Homo sapiens: one gene and its partners. The protein of the gene in region 1 interacts with the protein of each later gene in a pairwise test. Each region holds a gene or a part of one and is shown in the gene's direction. Other genes may lie near its edges.

Region 1 (3,249 bases):
GACGGTGGTGGGGGTAGTGATGGAGAGAGTTGACGGACCCATAGTCAGGATGGCTGCTGGCTTTGTCACTGAGTAGTTGGGTTATGTACTCAAATTACTTCACCTCTCTGAGGCTTAGTTTCCTCATCGGCAATATTGAACAATAATAGTGCCTGCCCCACTGGGTTGCCGTGAGGACCCAATAAGGCAATGCTTATGGAGGGCCCTGCTCGGTGCTGGTACAGAGGACCTGATGAATCCCAGCACTGACCTTCCCATCCACCTGTTTAGATTCCAAATTTCAGAGGGACCTGGTGACCCTGAGAACAGATTTTAGCAACTTCACCTCAAACACTGTGGCGGAGATCCAGGCACTGACTTCCCAGGGTGAGTCTGGTTTGGATGGGGCTCTGGGCTGGGGCCAGGCCAGGGAGGAGGAAGTTGACCCCTAAGCCAAGTCTCCGTGTCCTCCAGGCAGCAGCTTGGAAGAAACGATAGCATCTCTGAAAGCTGAGGTGGAGGGTTTCAAGCAGGAACGGCAGGCAGGTGAGAGACCCTCCGAGTATGGGTGTGGGGGGCTAGGCGCTCAGACACAGTGGAGGTGGGAACAGACTCCTGGTGCTGAACTGCCCTCCCCTTCAGCCAGCAGCTTGAAAGGCAGCATGCAGGCCGGGCGCAGTGGTTCACGCCTGTAATCCCAGCAGTTTGGGAGGCCGAGGCGGGTGGATCACGAGGTCAGGAGTTCGAGAGCAGCCTGATCGACATGGTGAAACCCCGTCTCTACTAAAAAAAATACAAAAAATAGCTGGGTGTGGTGGTGGGCGCCTGTAATCTCAGCTACTAGGGAGGCTGAGGCAGGAGAATTGCTTGAACACGGGAGGCGGAGGTAGCCGTGAGCCGAGATCGCGCCATTGCACTCCAGCCTGGGCAGCAAGAGTGAAACTCCGTCTCAAAAAAAAAAAAAAAAAAAAGAAAGAAAGAAAGAAAGGCAGCATGCTTTCTCTGGAGAGCAGGCTGGAGAAACAGGGGCAGAGGAATCCAAAGCAGATTTGATGGCTGTACCTGGCCATGATGTAGGGGGTGGGTGGGGGCGGGAAGGAACATTCCCTGGCTTGGCCCTGTGCAGGGGTATCTGAGCTCCAGGAACACACTACGCAGAAGGCACACCTAGGCCACTGTCCCCACTGCCCATCTGTGTGTGTCCCAGTTCATTCTGAAATGCTCCTGCGAGTCCAGCAGCTGGTGCAAGACCTGAAGAAACTGACCTGCCAGGTGGCTACTCTCAACAACAATGGTGAGGAAGGTATGGGGAGTACCTGGCCCTACTTTTCTGCCCATGGCCCACTGGGCAGAGCCTCAGCCTCTCCACCCTATCCTATTTCTCCCCAATCAGCCTCCACTGAAGGGACCTGCTGCCCTGTCAACTGGGTGGAGCACCAAGACAGCTGCTACTGGTTCTCTCACTCTGGGATGTCCTGGGCCGAGGCTGAGAAGTACTGCCAGCTGAAGAACGCCCACCTGGTGGTCATCAACTCCAGGGAGGAGCAGGTGAGGGCTTCTGGTACTCAGTTCCTAAGACATGTCCCATTTAGGGAAATGGTTCTTAAGCTTGGCCGCACATTGGAATCATCTGGGAGCTTCCAGAATGACTGTCATCTGTGCCACACCCTCAGAGATTTAATAGGCCTGAGCATCCAGAGAAACATCTCCAAACTCCTCAGTTGATTTAACGAAGAGCTAAAGTTGAGAATCACTAGTTTAAGGAGTTGGCTGGGATGGGAAGAAGTCACCACTGCCCTTCTGTCACCGCAGAATTTTGTCCAGAAATATCTAGGCTCCGCATACACCTGGATGGGCCTCAGTGACCCTGAAGGAGCCTGGAAGTGGGTGGATGGAACAGACTATGCGACCGGCTTCCAGTGAGTGCACCCTGGCTTTCTGTGCCAATGTCCTCCGTCAGCGTTTCCCCCAGGGATCTGACTGGCAGCCTCTCCTCCCCTGAACTGAATTCTACTCCATCTACCCTTCCTAGCTTGCTGTTGTCTTTTCCTCTCAGGAACTGGAAGCCAGGCCAGCCAGACGACTGGCAGGGGCACGGGCTGGGTGGAGGCGAGGACTGTGCTCACTTCCATCCAGACGGCAGGTGGAATGACGACGTCTGCCAGAGGCCCTACCACTGGGTCTGCGAGGCTGGCCTGGGTCAGACCAGCCAGGAGAGTCACTGAGCTGCCTTTGGTGGGACCACCCGGCCACAGAAATGGCGGTGGGAGGAGGACTCTTCTCACGACCTCCTCGCAAGACCGCTCTGGGAGAGAAATAAGCACTGGGAGATTGGAAGCACTGCTAACATTTTGAATTTTTTTCTCTTTAATTTTAAAAAGATGGTATAGTGTTCTTAAGCTTTTATTTTTTTTCCAACTTTTGAAAGTCAACTTCATGAAGGTATAATTTTTACATAATAAAAATGCACTCATTTAAAGAGTAGAGATGACTTTGACAAATATGCATGCCTAGGTGACTACCACTCCGATCGCAATAGATAACATTGCCATCGCCCCCACCAGTCCCCTCATGCCTCTGGGCAGTCCAACCACTTCCCTGTTTCCAGGCCAGTGATCTACTTCTTTTTCACTATTTATTGGCCTTGCCTCTTCTAGAGCTTCTAGAACTTCATATAAGTGAAATCATACACTCTCGTGTATATACTTCATATAAGTGAATATATACTCTCGTGAGAACTTACGTACTTTGTGTTGCTTGATTTTTGGCAATCTAAAAATGGCAGAGTGGAGAAGCCAGGTGAAGCCTTCGAAAGTCCTATGTGATTGAGAAAATAGCATTTTCTTCTCATATAGATTTGAGTTCAAATCTTTTCTGTCACTTAAAGATGGTATAAACTTAGGGTGATTAGGAAAAGCCATTGTTTAATTTCTCTGAAGATCCCAGAGTTGTTGGGAGATGTAGATAAGATCCCCAGGTGTATTGGTTAGCAATTGGTGTGTAACAAACCACCTCAAAGCTCAGGGCTTATACAGTAAGCATTTATTATAGCTCATGAGGCTATAGGTCTGGTCTGGCCAGGTTTGGGTCATCTTGGCTGGGCTTGTTTATGCGTCCGTGGTCAGCTGGTGGGTTGGCTTGGGGTTGGCTGGTCTAGGGTAGCCTTGCTCCCATGTCTCATATTTGGCTGGCTCTGGGCTGGGACAATGGGGATGACTGGGCCACATTAGCTTAGCCTGGCCTTGTTCACAGAATGGCTGGGTGGGGGTC
Region 2 (8,009 bases), on another chromosome or scaffold:
GTGGGCGTAGGACCCTCTGAGCCAGGTGTGGGATATAGTCTCGTGGTGCGCCGTTTCTTAAGCCGGTCTGAAAAGCGCAATATTCGGGTGGGAGTGACCCGATTTTCCAGGTGCGTCCGTCACCCCTTTCTTTGACTCGGAAAGGGAACTCCCTGACCCCTTGTGCTTCCCAGGTGAGGCAATGCCTCGCCCTGCTTCGGCTCGCGCACGGTGCGCACACACACTGGCCTGCGCCCACTGTCTGGCACTCCCTAGTGAGATGAACCCGGTACCTCAGATGGAAATGCAGAAATCACCCGTCTTCTGCGTCGCTCACGCTGGGAGCTGTAGACCGGAGCTGTTCCTATTCGGCCATCTTGGCTCCTCCCCTGATTGTGCATTTTAGCCTGGGCAACAGAGCGACACCCTGTCTCAAAAAAAAAAAAAAAAAAAAAAAAAAGAAGAAGAAGAAGAAGAGCACTTACTAATGACAATAATATATATTTTCTCATAAGCATTTATTTTAACTTAATTTACCATTTTTTGTTTTCTGTAACAGATATTTGCGTATATTTAATTTTACCTTTTCTAACTTTTTGGTCTGAATTTTATAGAGTAATTTTTTAAGGAAAGGTTAAATAAGATTAATAAAGTTACATTTGGGGAAACTTGTAACAGTTTTCACAGGGTGTGAAATGTCACCCCACACACATAACACACAAACACTTAAACTGATGTTGTTTCAAAAAGTTTTTTAGAGATTAACAAAAGCTGTTTAATTATTTCTCTGAAATGTGCCATTCAAATGTTCTTGGGTTTTGTTAGTCTATGAGAAAAATGAAAAGAATCACTGTAAATAGAACAATTAAATTCTGTCCTTAGAATTGCACAACCTCATCCACACAGATGGAAGATTTATTTTCATTAATGCATTCCTTTAACGATTTTGGGTGAAGAGCCTCCTGAAATGGACTTCTTCCTTCCCTGCCTTCTGAAGCAGAACACTCTGCTTTAGATGGTTTGACCTTGTCCGATGACTCTGAGCCACGCTTAGCATTTCAGGCAGAACGAAGGCTGAGATGTCATCAGAGAAGGCCACTGCAGACCTGGGCAGGGACCGTTGGGCCATGCCATGCAGGGCCATGTGAGCTGAAGGCTGTCCCCCAACGCCAGCGTAGGGGCTCCAGCTTCCCAACTTTGTCAATGCAACCAGAGTGGACCAGGGTGAGCACGGACTCCCTCTAACCTAGCTGTCGTGGTGTGAAAACATCTGCAAATCCTCAGAGGCCCTCCCATCAGGAGATGTCGTCTCATTTCCCTCCCCTTTAATGTGGGTGAGCCTTCTTGCTTTGCTTCAGTGAAGCAGCAGTGATGTCCCATAATTTTCCATACTGGATCTTTGCCTGGTGCTTTCTCCCCTTCTGTGAACACACACAGATGGCTACACCCTTTCCCCATATCGATTCTGTTCTTTTCTGACTCTGGCTTTCTTAGTATTGGGGTTCTCAAGTAGCTTCAGCCCTGTCTTGATGGATCATCTTTCGGGGTATGTGCTGATTCAGTCTGAGTGTCCAGGTGTCCACCTCCATCTTCTCACAGGGAAAAGCCAGCAGTACTGTTGGCTCTGCCTTGTTCAGGCTACGCTCCTTTCCTGCTCTGCCTTCTCAGAAACTCCCTGAAGCCTTTTTCTTCTTTTCTTACAAGTGTCCAGAACTTCTGAAAAGCAAAGCACATAGAGGCTAGTGCCATCCACTAGGACTTGTGGAATGATAAAATTGTTCTCTGTCTGTGCAGTCCATATAGTAGTGTAGGGGGGCATCTCAGGCTCCTGGTGGAGTCTGAAAATTAAACTTACATAAGACAAGTTAATAGCAGGAAAGCACACAGGTGTATTTGATACAAGTTTTACATGGCATGGGAGGCCTCATAAGGAAATGAAAACCCAAAGAGGCAGTTAGAGTGTGTTACTTATTTACTGAATTGGACAAAGAATAGTAAACTGAAAATGTGATGAGGCAGAGGGGCTTGGGCTAGGGTAGTTAATTGGATAGAAAAGTGACTAAGAAGATAAGGGTTAGTTTAATAGGGTTTGTACAGAATTCTCTTAGCCTCAACTTCCTGTCTTTGATGATAAGAATGTTGCTTTAGTTCTAGTATAAGAGGGACATCTTTCATATGGGAATTTCATCTCTTGCCTTTAAATAAACAAGAGGTTGGGGCCAGGCGCGGTGGCTCACGCCTGTAATCCCAGCACTTTGGGAGGCCGAGGCTGGTGGATCACGAGGTCAGGAGATCGAGACCATGCTGGCTAACACAGTGAAACCCCGTCTCTACTAAAAATCCAAAAAATTAGCCGGGTGTGGTGGTGGGTGCCTGTAGTCCCAGCTACTTGGGAGGCTGAGGCAGGAGAATGGCGTGAACCTGGGAGGCGGAACTTGCAGTGAGCCACTGCACTCTGGCCTGGGCAACAGAGTGAAACTCTGTCTCAAAAAAAAAAAAAAAAGAAAGAAAGAAACAAGAGGTCAAAGTGTCCAGTGTGTATTCTGTATGCAAAAAAGAAAAGAAAAAGTCAAAATAATCTTCTTGCACCTGTCGTTTTTTGGGTGTCTAACTTTTTTTTTTTTTTTTGAGCAGAGTCTCACTCACTCTGTCGCCCAGGCTGGAGTGTAATGGTGCAATCTCGGCTCACTGCAACCTCTGTTCCACCTCTCAGGTTCAAGTGATTCTCCTGCCTCAGCCTCCTGAGTAGCTGGGATTACAGGCATGCACCACGACACCTAACTAATTTTTGTATTTTTTGTAAATTTTGTATTTTTGGTAGAGATGGGGTTTTACTGTGTTGGCCAGGTTGGTCTTGAACTACTCACCTCAAGTGATCCGCTTGCCTTGGCCTCCCAAAGTGCTGGGATTACAGGCGTGAGCCACCGCCCTCAAGTATCTAACTTAGTCAATCCACCAGGTGTCTAACTTAGTCAATCCACCAGGATGCTATATTTATAACTCTTTCAGTAGCCACTGGCTATGTGTGGCTATTGAGCACTTGAAATACGGCTAGTACAGCCAAGAAATGGAACTTTACATTTTATTTAATATTATTTAACTTGAATGTAAATAGCCACCAGTGGTGAGTGGCTCCATCCTGGGCAGCGCAGGTGTGGGCAGTGGGTCCTTTGGCTCTTCTCCAAGATGACTTCTATTCTTCTCCTGATCCACACCAGGGGTGCTTCTCCTTTCCTTTTCCTTCTTGTTTCAAGGATTCCTCAGCTGTCTCTCTAGTCAGGCCTTATTCTGTGAGGTTCATCTCTCTGCCCTGCCTCCTTTCCTCCCCCAGCCTTTGGGAGAATAAAACACTAGCTCTACCCAGTAATTAAGGTTTGAAGGTTTTCTCCCACTTTGGTGTGGACTGGCAGAACGGTGGGAGTGCCCACAAATTTCCTGTGACAAAGAAGAGAATGAAGGAAATTACTAGAAACCACCAAAAATGTCTCTCTTAATTGCAAGTGCTAGCTTCGGGGAGGCAGTCTGTTCCAGCTCCTTTTCAACTGACTACAGATATGAGAATCTAGAACTGTGTGCTTTAGGATAGGGATGGAGAGTTCTTTTCAAAATGTGCATTTTCTAGACCCCAGCTGCAAGAGACCTTGATACCAAAACCCAGTGGCCTAGGAATCAGTATTTCTTAAATATCCATTAGAGCTTCTGCATCGAACCACGTTAGGGAACAACTGATTTAATCAACACACTGATTTACTTAGGAGCTTTTGACTTAGCCTCACTCCATTAAGCCCCCATAGACTGCTCTGCTTTCCAAATGCTTATGTTCACTTTTTACAGTTTTTCTCTGGTCTCCCCTGCATTTACGGTCACCTCCAATTTCCCGCCTCCTTCTCTCTCCAAAAACACACAGCTCAGCTTTTCAAAGTTAGAATAATGCATGTAGTAATCGTAAATAAACTGCACGAAGAGCTGAGATTTCTTTCTATCTCTACGGAGTCCTGAAATGTATGAACTCTGTGACATGTGCTTTAGTCAACTTTCTTTCTAGGAGTTTGGCCCCTCTTGCCTTGCCCTCTACAGACAGTCTTCATTTTCTAAAATTTTGCATGCCAGTGCCCAGAGTGTATTTATTAACAGTTTGAAACTGTCATAAATCTCACTTGGCAGTGATTTTCTTATTAGTTTCAGCATCTCTGCCTTAGCACTGCCAAGCTTGAATGGTCTAGACATTGTCTTCAAAAATAACTCCCTCTGGGACAGGCCTGAAAGTCTCTGGCACAGGATCCCATCTATCTATGGATACTTCTCCTAGGAGATTAGAAGTCTTCCTGGCAGGCAAACATTTTGTCCCTGGAGATCCATCCACTATGGCCAGTATTATGTAAAGGATAAGAGTTCAATGGTTCACATCCATTGAATATAATTCAGTCAACAAAAGAGTGGATTATGCATATATTGCATATATGCAACTCATTTATAACCAAGGAAGAGAGGACCAACAGAAAGTTACAGTTTGGGGAGATTTAAAAATAACTGAACTTATATTGGGGACGTCTTGCTCTTGGAGATAAAAATGGCTCTTATTGCCAGCTGTTGCTCGTTTTTTGGTGGGCGGTATCAAGCATGTGATGCTTTGGTGGCTACACCAGATTCTCTTTTGCAGAACTTGCATGAAGGGTGTGGGTTCCATCCAATCTGTTATCCCCTGTTCCTTCATCCATCCCATTGCCATGCGAGTCTTACTGAGGAGGTGATCTTTACTAGAGGCCACGGATCATTTTTCCATTTCTGCATACATACAAAATTAAAGTTCACCTTGGCCCAGGACCCCTTTGGGGGGGTCACGCCCCCTGCGCCGACGTCCTGGGAGCTAGCGGTGCGCAAGCTCGGCTCACACACACCCCGCCCCGGGGCCTCCTGGGAACTGTAGTAGGCGGCTCGCGAATCCCCGCCGCCATGACAGGACCCGGACTACAGCTCCCGAAAGGCCTCGCGCGTCGCGCCTGCGCCTGCGTCCCTGCGGCCGCCAGAGGGAGGGTTAAGGCGCCTGGGCGCACAGCGAGCCGGCTGAGGGGGCTGTGGCGGCCGCGGCGGGCGACATGGACAACGCGGGGAAGGAGCGTGAGGCAGTACAGCTGATGGCGGAGGCCGAGAAGCGAGTCAAGGCCTCCCACTCCTTCCTCCGAGGGCTGTTTGGGTGAGCGCCAGACCGTGCGTGCCCTGGGGGGGGGGGGTCTCCGTACTTGGCCCCCTTCCTTTCAGGCTGACCCCCCGAGTCCCCCACGCAACCTCTGGGGCCCTCAGACCACGTCTAGGGGCCCTCAGCCTGCAGGCGCCCTCCAGAAATCCTGTAGGGTCCCCCAGCGCCCCCTGGAGCCCCCAGGACGCCCAGGGGCCCTCAGTCCGCACGCGCCCTCCAGAGACCCCACAGGCCCCCCCAGGGTCCCTGGAAACCCCGCATCCTCCCAGGGGCTCTCAGCCCCCACGCGCACTTTAGAGACCCCCTAGGGCCGGCAGAACTCCCCAGGGTTCCTCAGCCCCCACACGCTCTCCGGATCCCCTAACACGCCCCCTTAGAATCCCCAGAGTCTCACAGGGACCCTCAGCCCCCACGCGCCTTTCAGAGAACCCCTAGGACCCCCAGAGCTCCCCAAGCGCCCCACGAAGCCCCTAGAACACTCTGGGGGGGGGGCTGTCAGCCTCACGCGCCCTCTGGAGACCCCAGATCGCCCCCCTCGCCCTGGCCCGGGTTGGTGCGGGGGTCCCACGACCTAGAAGGTCAGCGGCTCCCTGAGGCCCGCGGGCGCGGTAGCTCGGGGCGCGCGTGGGGCCCCCTTCTCAGTGCGTAGCGAGTCGTATTGGTGCATTTCGCCACGCTGAAGCCCGTATCGCTCCTGAGACCGGTCCGGGTGAGGCGCGCCGGGGTGGAGCCGGAGGGGTGGGTGCGGGGGCCGCCCCCGGCGCCTGGAACGCGCACCTGGGGGCGTCCCGCCTGCAGGTGGGCCCCGCCGGGGAGGGGGCGGTCCGGCGAGGGATCCAGAGCTGGTGTGCTTGTTGGCCTCTCTCCAGGGGCCTTGCGCCGAGTACACCTTTAGTAAATACTTGACTAATGAACGAATATATTTTCTCAGCATAGTATTTTTCCTTCTCCGGAGATTGATTGATAGCCAGAGCCTCCTGTTTGATTAACGGTAACGCTGCTGCTGTTTAAGTCAGGCGTCCTTTGGGAATCCCTTTAATTTCCTGTAATTCTTCCGTGCTCTCCTAAGGAGGATTTTAAATTCCAACCTCTCAAAAAGCAGAGCCCGCACTGACAGCCCGGAAGAATTCTGGGCTGTTGAATATGTGAATGATTCAGCTGTTTAGGATGAGAAAGGCAGAAATTTTGTGTGTGCCTGTTTCGTTGTTTTCTTTTGAAAGTGAAAGATCCTTTGCTGTTACCAAGAGCAGATACTTAACCCATTGCATGACTAGACACGATTTTATTTCTGTACACATTCAGTTCAGACTCTATTTCAGAAGACAGACATAATGGGCTCTTAGCTTGTTTTGCCAACTTCATTCTTTTGGCTATAAATTATAATACTTTACCGCTATTGATACGTCTTTAGGAAATGCTTAAGGACAAGTTGCATGCAGTACGCATAACTGCAGAAATGCATAAAGGCTGCAAAAATGCAAGAAGATAAGGGTCCCTGTCCTCAGGAACCTCTCAGAGGACGTTTATCACAGCTGGTTTCTAAATTTCTCATGTGATGTGTAGGAGATATAGCTATGAATTATGTTTTGTTTTGCATTTAAAAGTTATGACAGTACCATCAAGTGCTAGCGCCACACTAACTCCTTTTAAATGTTTTGATTCACAAAACATTTAAAATTCACTCTAATAAAATTTAATGTCATAGTACCTCATGCCAGGAGGTTATTTTAATGTTACAACATTATTTCAAGTCAGGAAGTGCTTCCCTGTGGGAGAGTCTGTAACTGGCAGAGGAAAAAGCTTGACAGCACTTGGTGCTTGTCTCAGGAGAACACTCCTTTTGGGAAAGAGGTTTTCGATGTTTTTAGGAAACTAGGCCAAATCTTGAGCTTATAATCCTTAAAGGATTTTGAAAAGCCTTTGTTTTTAAAGAAACATCTCCCTTTTAAATGTTGCTACCTATGTTATTGACAGGACATATAAGAAGACGAATCTTCACCATTCACACTCAGTTACACAAAAGTTAATGCATCTTAGTTCTTACCTGGGTACAACAGGTTGGTTTATTATCTAGCTTTGGGACCTAGGGCAAGTTACTTAGCCTCTCTGTGCTTCAGTTTCCAGTGTATAAAACGGAGACAATAATAGTATATCTCAAAATTTATGGGAGTTCAGTGAGGTTATGTTTATAAAACATTTGGAACCATGGATGTTGGAGACAGTGACCATGAGATATTAATTAGCATATTCATCAAAATTATCAGCTCCAGTTATTTATCAAAGAAGCAGTAGGCCAAACAGATAACTTTTCCAGAATTTCAGAGCCGTAGACTGCATCATTGATTTTTTTTTTTTGAGACGGAGTCTCACACTGTCACCCGGGCTGGATTGCAGTGGCGGGATGTCAACTAACTGCAACCTCCGCCTCCCAGGTTCAAGCGATTCTCCTGCCTCAGTCTCCTGAGTAGCTGGGATTACAGCCACCCGCCACCACGCCCGGCTAATTTTTTTTTTTTTTTTGTATTTTTAGTAGAGACGGGGTTTCACTGTGTTGGCCAGGCTGGTCTCGAATGCCTGACCTCGTGATCCACCTGCCTTGGCCTCCCAAAGTGCTGGGATTACAGACGTGAGCCAGCACGCCCAGCCTCATTGATCTTTTAATGAAATAAAATATCTGAAAGAGCTTTAACCATTAATGTACCATGCAAGTGTGATTTATACTTTGAAGACTGTTATTTCCAGTAATACTTGCTCCAGGAAAGCTTGCAGGAAGAAGAGTACTTAGAATTTTAGGAGTTTAGTAATATTGTATAATTACTGAAGCCAGAAAACA
Region 3 (7,647 bases), on another chromosome or scaffold:
ACACTCATTTACTAGATTAAAAAATGAAAAGTGTATATGAATGCAGCTTAATGTGCCAATGAAAGGCATCATGTGCATTCTCCTTAGTTATAAGTTCCAACCAGCTGCCCTTCATTTTACATATTTTCTATTTTGGCTATTTAATATGCCACGCAACTCAGCATGCTGGACAGTGCACGTGTGTCTGACTTGTAACTAGTCAGCTACAACTACAAGTTGAATTAGTTAATTAACCTCTTTCACATTTTTAGGTCTAAAAACAAAATAGGTGTGTTGATCTATAAGTGGGTCTTGATGGCAGAAATACTTCCCCATAGTGGCATCTGGAAATATATAGGGGTAGTCTTTTCTTTTTCTATGCCTAGTAGTTTTCACTGGCATTTATTGACTTAGATACTAGGTAAGCTAAATACCCTGCAATCTTAAGGATGATCTCACACAATGAAAAATTGCCCTGCCCAGGCTGACTTGCCATAGTGCTCAAGCCTGTAATATTAGCACTTTGGGAGGCTACAGCTGGAGGATCACTGAGCCCAGGAGTTTGAGACCACCCTGGGCAACATAGCAAGGCCCCCATCTCTACTCTACAAAAAAAGAAAAGAAAATTTGCCAGGCATGGTGGCACTCACCTGCAGTGCCAGCTACTTGGGAGGCAGAAGCAGGAGGATCTCTTGAGCCCAGGAGTTCAAGGGTGCAGTCAGCCATGATCGCACCACGGCACTCCAGCCTGGGTGACAGAACAAGACTCCAACTCAAAAAATAAAGAAAGAAAAGAGGCCGGGCGCGGTGGCTCACGCCTGTAATCCCAGCACTTTGGGAGGCCGAGGCGGGCGGATCAAGAGGTCAGGAGATCGAGACCATCCCGGCTAAAACGGTGAAACCCCGTCTCTACTAAAAATACAAAAAAATTAGCCGGGCGTAGTGGCGGGCGCCTGTAGTCCCAGCTACTTGGGAGGCTGAGGCAGGAGAATGGCGTGAACCCGGGAGGCGGAGCTTGCAGTGAGCCAAGATCCCGCCACTGCACTCCAGCCTGGGCGACAGAGTGAGACTCCGTCTCAAAAAAAAAAAAAAAAAAAGAAAGAAAAGAAAAATTGCCTAGCCCAAAATGTTATAGTGAGATCGTTCATAAATTTAATCCTTAAAGTTCTTTCAAGTTCTAAAATTACATGATTCTAAGTGGAAAGTACATTTTGAAAATTATTGTTTTACAATGCAGACATGAGTATCAGGCTAACATCAGCCAATAGGGTTTCTGTTTTCTTCCTCTTTTGCGTTCTTGCGTGTTCCTGGCTGGCCCATTACTTTCAGGTGCAATATGTGGGCTCTATGAATGAAATGGTCAGATTCTCTGGTGTGAAACTCAAACTACTGTCCCCATTCCTCATGCATCCAAAACTAGCCTGGAAAGTCTTTTTGGCCATTATACACCAACCCAGTTCCAGGTGATAGAATATGAGAAATGGAATGGAGCCTAAAAGGCTATCTTGTCCCCTCACCTCTACTGCCCCAAAATTACCAAAGCAACCAACACAAGGGTTCTTTCTCTAATGAGCGATGAAAGTGATCTTTCTTATTCCATAAGGCTCCTGCTCTGGAAGGCTCTGGTAATGGCGACCATTTTCCTGGTAACTTAGGGTTATTTGTAACTCCAGCAGCTGCCACAGAAGGCTCAGATGGGAACTCAAAGTTGTAAGATAAGCTCTTCATTTATTTTCCTTAATCAGGGCTGTCTTGGTTTTCCTGCCCCTGGGGCAATAGTGGCAATGTGAGGAACAGAGACCTTGCCCCTTTGTAAAGGAACAAGTGGAGTAACCACTCTGGACCTATCATTGGACCTGACTTTAACTCAGTGTTTCTCAACAGTGCAACCAAATGTCAAAAATCACAGACAAACATTGTTTGCACTTGCTTGTTAGTTCCAGGATTAAATAGACAGTCTTTTATTACCTAAGTTCTAAAATGTTTTGGTTTTATTTTTTCCCTATCATAATTTTTTAAATTTAGTTTTCCTATTTTATTTATTCTAAGCTCTTTCATCTACTCACATATGATGACCCCCAAAGGTAAAGCATACTAACCGCTTCTTATATATACATTCATATTTTTCTCCCTGATCAAAATCCATTACAGATCATATGAGTATGTCTATGTGTGTCTGTGTTCACATTTATACAGATTTTTAAAAATCAGCATTCATTTTTGAAATAAGGATCATATTATAAGCACTTTTTTGCATGTTGCTTTTTTCCTTTCTAGTACTTTAATGGGGTATTTCTCCAAGCTATCTGTTAGCTCTAATTTACAGAATAATTTATTCACTTCTCTAACAAAAAGCATTCATTCTATCTCATTTTTGATACTTTGAACAACACTGAAATAAACTTTTTTATACAATTTGTTAAAGCATGCTTATATTTGTATTTTTATAAGATATATTCCCAAAAGTAAAATCACCTGATCAAACAGCATATATCTTTTTTCTAAAGAAAAACTGAAGACACTTTATTTTTATCATTATTGAAGTTAACAATTGACAAGCCCATTAGAGAAAACATTTTACATAATTTTACATCACTGACTTAGAGCCCACACATACATGACAAAGATAGCTAAAAACATATGAAAAAATATATCTTTGGAAATAAACACAGCATTCCTCTGGCTATGAAACTAAAAAAGTTTGAGACACTTTTTAAACTTGTAGCAGAAGATGCAACAGACTGTCAGCTTCATTTAGCACTGCCTGCACTAATTGTTGTTCACTCGATTCTTTACGAGATATTAGCTTCAGAATATGGACCCTAAAGAATCCACATCTTTGGAATGTTCCATCATAGCTTTGATGATCAAGTCTGAGTCTCCAAAAGCCACTCTCATTTTATAGAAATCTTTCAACTGTTATGCATCATCAGACATGACAACAGGTGTCACAAGAGATATATGCCTTGCCTCCAGCAAATCAATTAGAAGAAAACAAAAATTTCTTTAAAATACAAAGAAAATATAGAGCAAGAGAACAGAATATAAGTCTTCCACTCATATCCTCCAACAGCAACAATAATCTAGCAACCATCCAGGGATGAAAGTTTCTTCTTAGCAGTTTTGTGATTTGGAGGGGACAACAGAGTAGAGAATGCCCACTGCCCCAACCAGAGCCTGGGCATTTGAGATTCTGAAGATTTAAAAAGGGGCTCTGCAGAAAGCTGTGGCAAGCAAAGGATAGGCTAGAGAGAGACAGGACTAATAAATGTGTCGACTTCAGATACATTCTTGTGAAGGACAGCAAAGAATAGGTGGCCTTTTCACCTCCTAGAGAGATAAAACATCGGAGGCCAAGGTAGAATTGGGTGTGTCCTGCCAATCTTTAAATGAATAAGGCTATAGGAGTAGTATTGCTTCCTGAAGTAGTCACAATCTTTTCTTTGCATTATTTTAATTCTATTTATGTAGCATTAAAAACTGAAAAGAAGTTCTATGTAAAATGAGAGCAGAGAAAATCATGTTGTCTGAATTGCAGCCCTAGAAAATTTCATGAACCTATGACTTGTTTTTAATTTTTATCTACAAGTCACATTTGCTCATTTTTAACTACATGCCACATTTTATATGTACCTATGTATACATGTATTTATGTGTACATACCCTTTAATCCTCTAATCCTTGTTAAAAAAAAAATAGCCAGACAGGAATTAATAGTGTAGTTATCCCTATTTTATTAATGAGTAAATCAACGATTGGAAAGGTTAAGTGATTTGCCCAAGGCCACAGAGCTATAGAAGTGATTTGGAATCTCTCATACTCACACTTCAGAGATGAAGATTACTGTCTTCAAAAGGCATGAAGGGTAATTCCTCAAAATTAGACATATACCAGTTTACACTAAGTATCACTTGCTTAATGAAGGAGTTAACTAGACAAAATGAGTGAGATGTTATAATTCTAAGTGACATCAAAATATAGTTGATAGGAAAACTTTTTTTGAAATTCTACTATATTTCATGACTGGGAGTTAGGTGCAGTTTATTTTGTCTAACTGCCAACATAATTTTACCTGGTACTAATTTTACCTGGTTCCTGGTACTAATAGATCAATTTGTGGAATTTTGATCTTTTCTGTGACCACACACTGTACTCAGAAACAAGTAAATATAAGCTTGAGAAATACAGGCCTTTGACCCCAAAATTCCAAGACAGGACATGAAAAGAGAGAGCAGAGAAAAGTCATCCTCCTTATTGGGCTATCTCAATTAAGTAGCTAAGTTTCTACAGTATTTGGAGGACTACTATGAGCTACCCACAAAAGAACTAGGAATAAGGAAAACAAGGTAAACTTTCAAATAACACATAATAAAATGGAGTACAGAACTGCAAAGTCACCTGGGAGAAACTACTTGACTCCCAGGCCAAGGGTCCAAGAGTATAACCAGCAGCTTGTGTTTACCATAATCAAAGGAAAAGTAGAAACTGGGTGGCCATGGGAGACTGGCCTACAGTCCCATCCATCACAGAGGGTTGGCGTGTGCTCACCCATTCAAGGACCAATAAATGAGTATCTCTTTAAGAGCAGCTCCTCCCATTTTTCAACAATCTTCCTAATATGTAGGCTCACTAGAACATTTTCTCTTTCAAACTGCCCAGACGGTTGGACAGGACGTAGACACACAGAAGAAAAGAAGACAAAGAACGGGTAGGAAAATTAAAAAGGTAGGAGGCTGAGGCGGGTGGATCACCTGAGGTCAGGAGCTTGAGACCAGCCTGACCAACATGGTGAAACCAAATCTCTACCAAAGATACAAAAATTAGCCAGGCGTAGTGGTGCATGCCTGTAATCCCAGCTACTTGGGAGGCTGAGGCAGGAGAATCACTTGAATCTGGGAGGCAGAGGTTGCAGTGAGCCGAGATCACACCATTGTACTCCAACCTGGATAAAAGCGAAACTCCGTCTCAAAAAAAAAAAGAAAAGAAAAAGAATAAAAGGTGATATAGTAAAGGGTTGAGGGTGGGATGGGTAAATGAAGAAGGAGCATGCTGTAGTTTTATACCAAATATGGCTAGAATGAGAATGATATAATTCAGGCAGTTTGTTTGTTTCTGGGAATCACGGATCATGATGTTTAATCATCCAAGTCTATTTCCCTGCATAGCTATGTGATTTTGTCTAAAAAGAAAAAAAAAAGTAGTGAAAGAAGTAGTGGTAGAGCCTAAAGACAGTGTCAGGAACAGAAAAAAGTTAGGAAACGTAATTTTCTTAGAGGGGAATGGACGCTGAAGGTAGTGGGAAAAAATTGTTTTTAGGTAAGAACATGACTTCTTTCCCCAACACCCCCCGGAGAGAAGGTCTCACTCTGTCACCTAGGCTACAGTGCAGTGCTGTAACCATAGCTCACTGCAGCCTCAAACTCCTGGGCTCAAGCGATACCCCAGCTCAACAGGACTATATAATCCCAGAGTAGCTGGGACTATAGGTATGCACCATTTACTTGTCTTTTTAATTGAGAAGGTGAAGTACATTATTGATGGGGAGAAGGGGTGACTACCTGGCACACTGAAATACAGACATCTTCAGACCTTGTTCCTCATTATCCGTATCTAAGTAAAAAGAAGATACAGATTGCGTGTGTGTGTGTGTGTGTGTATGACTGTGTGTGTGTATACATATACATATGTGTTTCTTCATTCCCATATACAGGCATATGTATGTGGGTGGGTGGGTGGATGTGTCTACAGGTGTTTTAGTTGCGAATCTTTATTTCTTCTGCTTACTCTTTTTGGTAGACAGTAAATGACAAAGTCCAAAAGCAAAAAAGATAAATATGTATGCTGGGTCATCAGTCTCTTAATTTTGGAGAGCTGATGACTAAAAACAAAGTGCTTATTTTTTTTTCAGAAGAAAACTTTCTCTTTAGAAATTAGAGAGAAATGAAAATGTAGTTAGATCACTAAAAGGAATTTGTTTTCTAGAGACAAGGTCTTACTCTGTCACCCAGGCTGGAGTGCAGTGGTACAATCACGGCTCACTGCAGCCTGGAACTCCTGAACTCAAGTGATCCTACCGCCTCAGCCTCCTGAGTAGCTGGGAGTACAGGCATGTGCCACCACACCCAGCTGATTTTGTTTGTTTTTTGTTTTGTTTTGTGGAGACAGGGTCTCACTCTGTTGTCCAGGCTGCTTTCAAACTCCTGGGCTCAAGTGATCCTCCCACCTCAGCCTCCCAAAGTGCTGGGATTACAGGCGTGAGCTACCATACTCAGCCAGTGTTTATTAAAAAGTAAAGTTTTTATTAAGCCAAAGAGCGAAATCAAAATAAATAGATAAATAAGTAAATACATTTTCAGCAATGTTGTTACTGGAAATGTTCTCTGGGCCTTTGCACAGGTTACCATGGGGAAGAAAGTGGCCATCATTGGAGCTGGTGTGAGTGGCTTGGCCTCCATCAGGAGCTGTCTGGAAGAGGGGCTGGAGCCCACCTGCTTTGAGAAGAGCAATGACATTGGGGGCCTGTGGAAATTTTCAGTGAGTAGCATGTTGTTGTAATAGACAGGAAAATAGGTTGGGAAGTGTATAAGAGCACACTGTGTGCACACAGGTTTCCAAACCTGCTACCATGGCAGTTATCATATCTGTTAGAATTGGAATCCACTAAGTACAGTGTCAAGAGCAGGTTGGAAAGTAACCTCCTTGCAAGTCAGAAGTAAATTAGACAATGGGCTTTGAAATTCTCCATTACAGTTCTCCCTTGATAGATCATTAATAAGAGCCACTTGGACATAAAATTAGTGGTAAATATTAGTTAGGTTTATGTAGTTATAATTATTTACTCATTTAAAACACAATAACTTTTCACATCTTTTTTTTTTTTTACAGATTTAGGGGGTACAAGTGCAGTTTTATTACATGGATATAATGTATAGCAGTTAAGTCTGGGCTTTTGTGTAGCCATGACCCAAATAATGTACATTGCACCCATTAAGTAATTTCTCATACCTCAACCGCCTCCCACTCTCCTACCCTTCCAAGTCTCCAATGTCTATTATTCCCACATTCTATGTCAATGTGTATACATTATGTAGCTCCCAATCGTAAGTGAGAGAATATGTGGTATTTCACTTTCTGTTTCTGAGTTATTTCACTTAAGATAATGGCCTCCAGTCCCATCCATGTTGCTGCAGAAGACATAATTTCATTCTGTATTCTCGCTGGGTAGTATTCCATGGTGTGTGCATATATACATACATATATATGTATATGCGTCTGTGTGTATATATACATATATGTATGTATATACCACATTTTCTTTATCCAATCATCCTTATTGGACAACAAGGTTGATTCCATTTCTTTGCTATTGTGAATGGTGCTGCGATAAACATATGGGTGCAGGAATTTTTTTTATATAATGACTTCTTTTCCTTTGGATAGATATCTACTAGGGGCATTGTTGGGTCAAATGGTAGTTCTATTTTTAATTCTTTGTGAAATCTCCATACTGTTTTCTATAGTTTATATTCCAACCAACAGTGTTTCCTTTTCTCCACATACTCACTAATATCTTTTTTTTTTTTTTTTTTTTTTTTTGAGTGGGAGTCTCACTCTGTCTCCCAGGCTGGAGGGCAGTGGCGCCATCTCAGTTCACTGCAGCCTCCACCT

Evidence for each region. Proteins that work in one complex are often made in the same cells at the same time.
Region 2: the proteins of CLEC10A (region 1) and NAPB interact in binary tests that used the Homo sapiens proteins (3 or more experiments, as listed by UniProt).
Region 3: the proteins of CLEC10A (region 1) and FMO3 interact in binary tests that used the Homo sapiens proteins (3 or more experiments, as listed by UniProt).

The regions. Positions count from the first base shown.
Region 1 is NC_000017.11:7,074,009-7,077,257, reverse strand, and holds the end of CLEC10A (C-type lectin domain family 10 member A), read left to right. Parts: intron 1-270; coding exon 271-366; intron 367-453; coding exon 454-525; intron 526-1,105; coding exon of another isoform or gene 1,106-1,186; coding exon 1,187-1,273; coding exon of another isoform or gene 1,274-1,282; intron 1,283-1,372; coding exon 1,373-1,527; intron 1,528-1,791; coding exon 1,792-1,898; intron 1,899-2,035; coding exon 2,036-2,204; 3' UTR 2,205-2,721; downstream 2,722-3,249. UniProt on the Homo sapiens protein: C-type lectin receptor involved in recognition of N-acetylgalactosamine (GalNAc)-terminated glycans by myeloid antigen presenting cells (APCs).
Region 2 is NC_000020.11:23,418,469-23,426,477, reverse strand, and holds the start of NAPB (beta-soluble NSF attachment protein), read left to right. Parts: upstream 1-4,989; 5' UTR 4,990-5,075; coding exon 5,076-5,173; intron 5,174-8,009. UniProt on the Homo sapiens protein: Required for vesicular transport between the endoplasmic reticulum and the Golgi apparatus.
Region 3 is NC_000001.11:171,086,278-171,093,924, forward strand, and holds the start of FMO3 (flavin-containing monooxygenase 3), read left to right. Parts: upstream 1-4,627; 5' UTR 4,628-4,704; intron 4,705-6,375; 5' UTR 6,376-6,381; coding exon 6,382-6,513; intron 6,514-7,647. UniProt on the Homo sapiens protein: Essential hepatic enzyme that catalyzes the oxygenation of a wide variety of nitrogen- and sulfur-containing compounds including drugs as well as dietary compounds.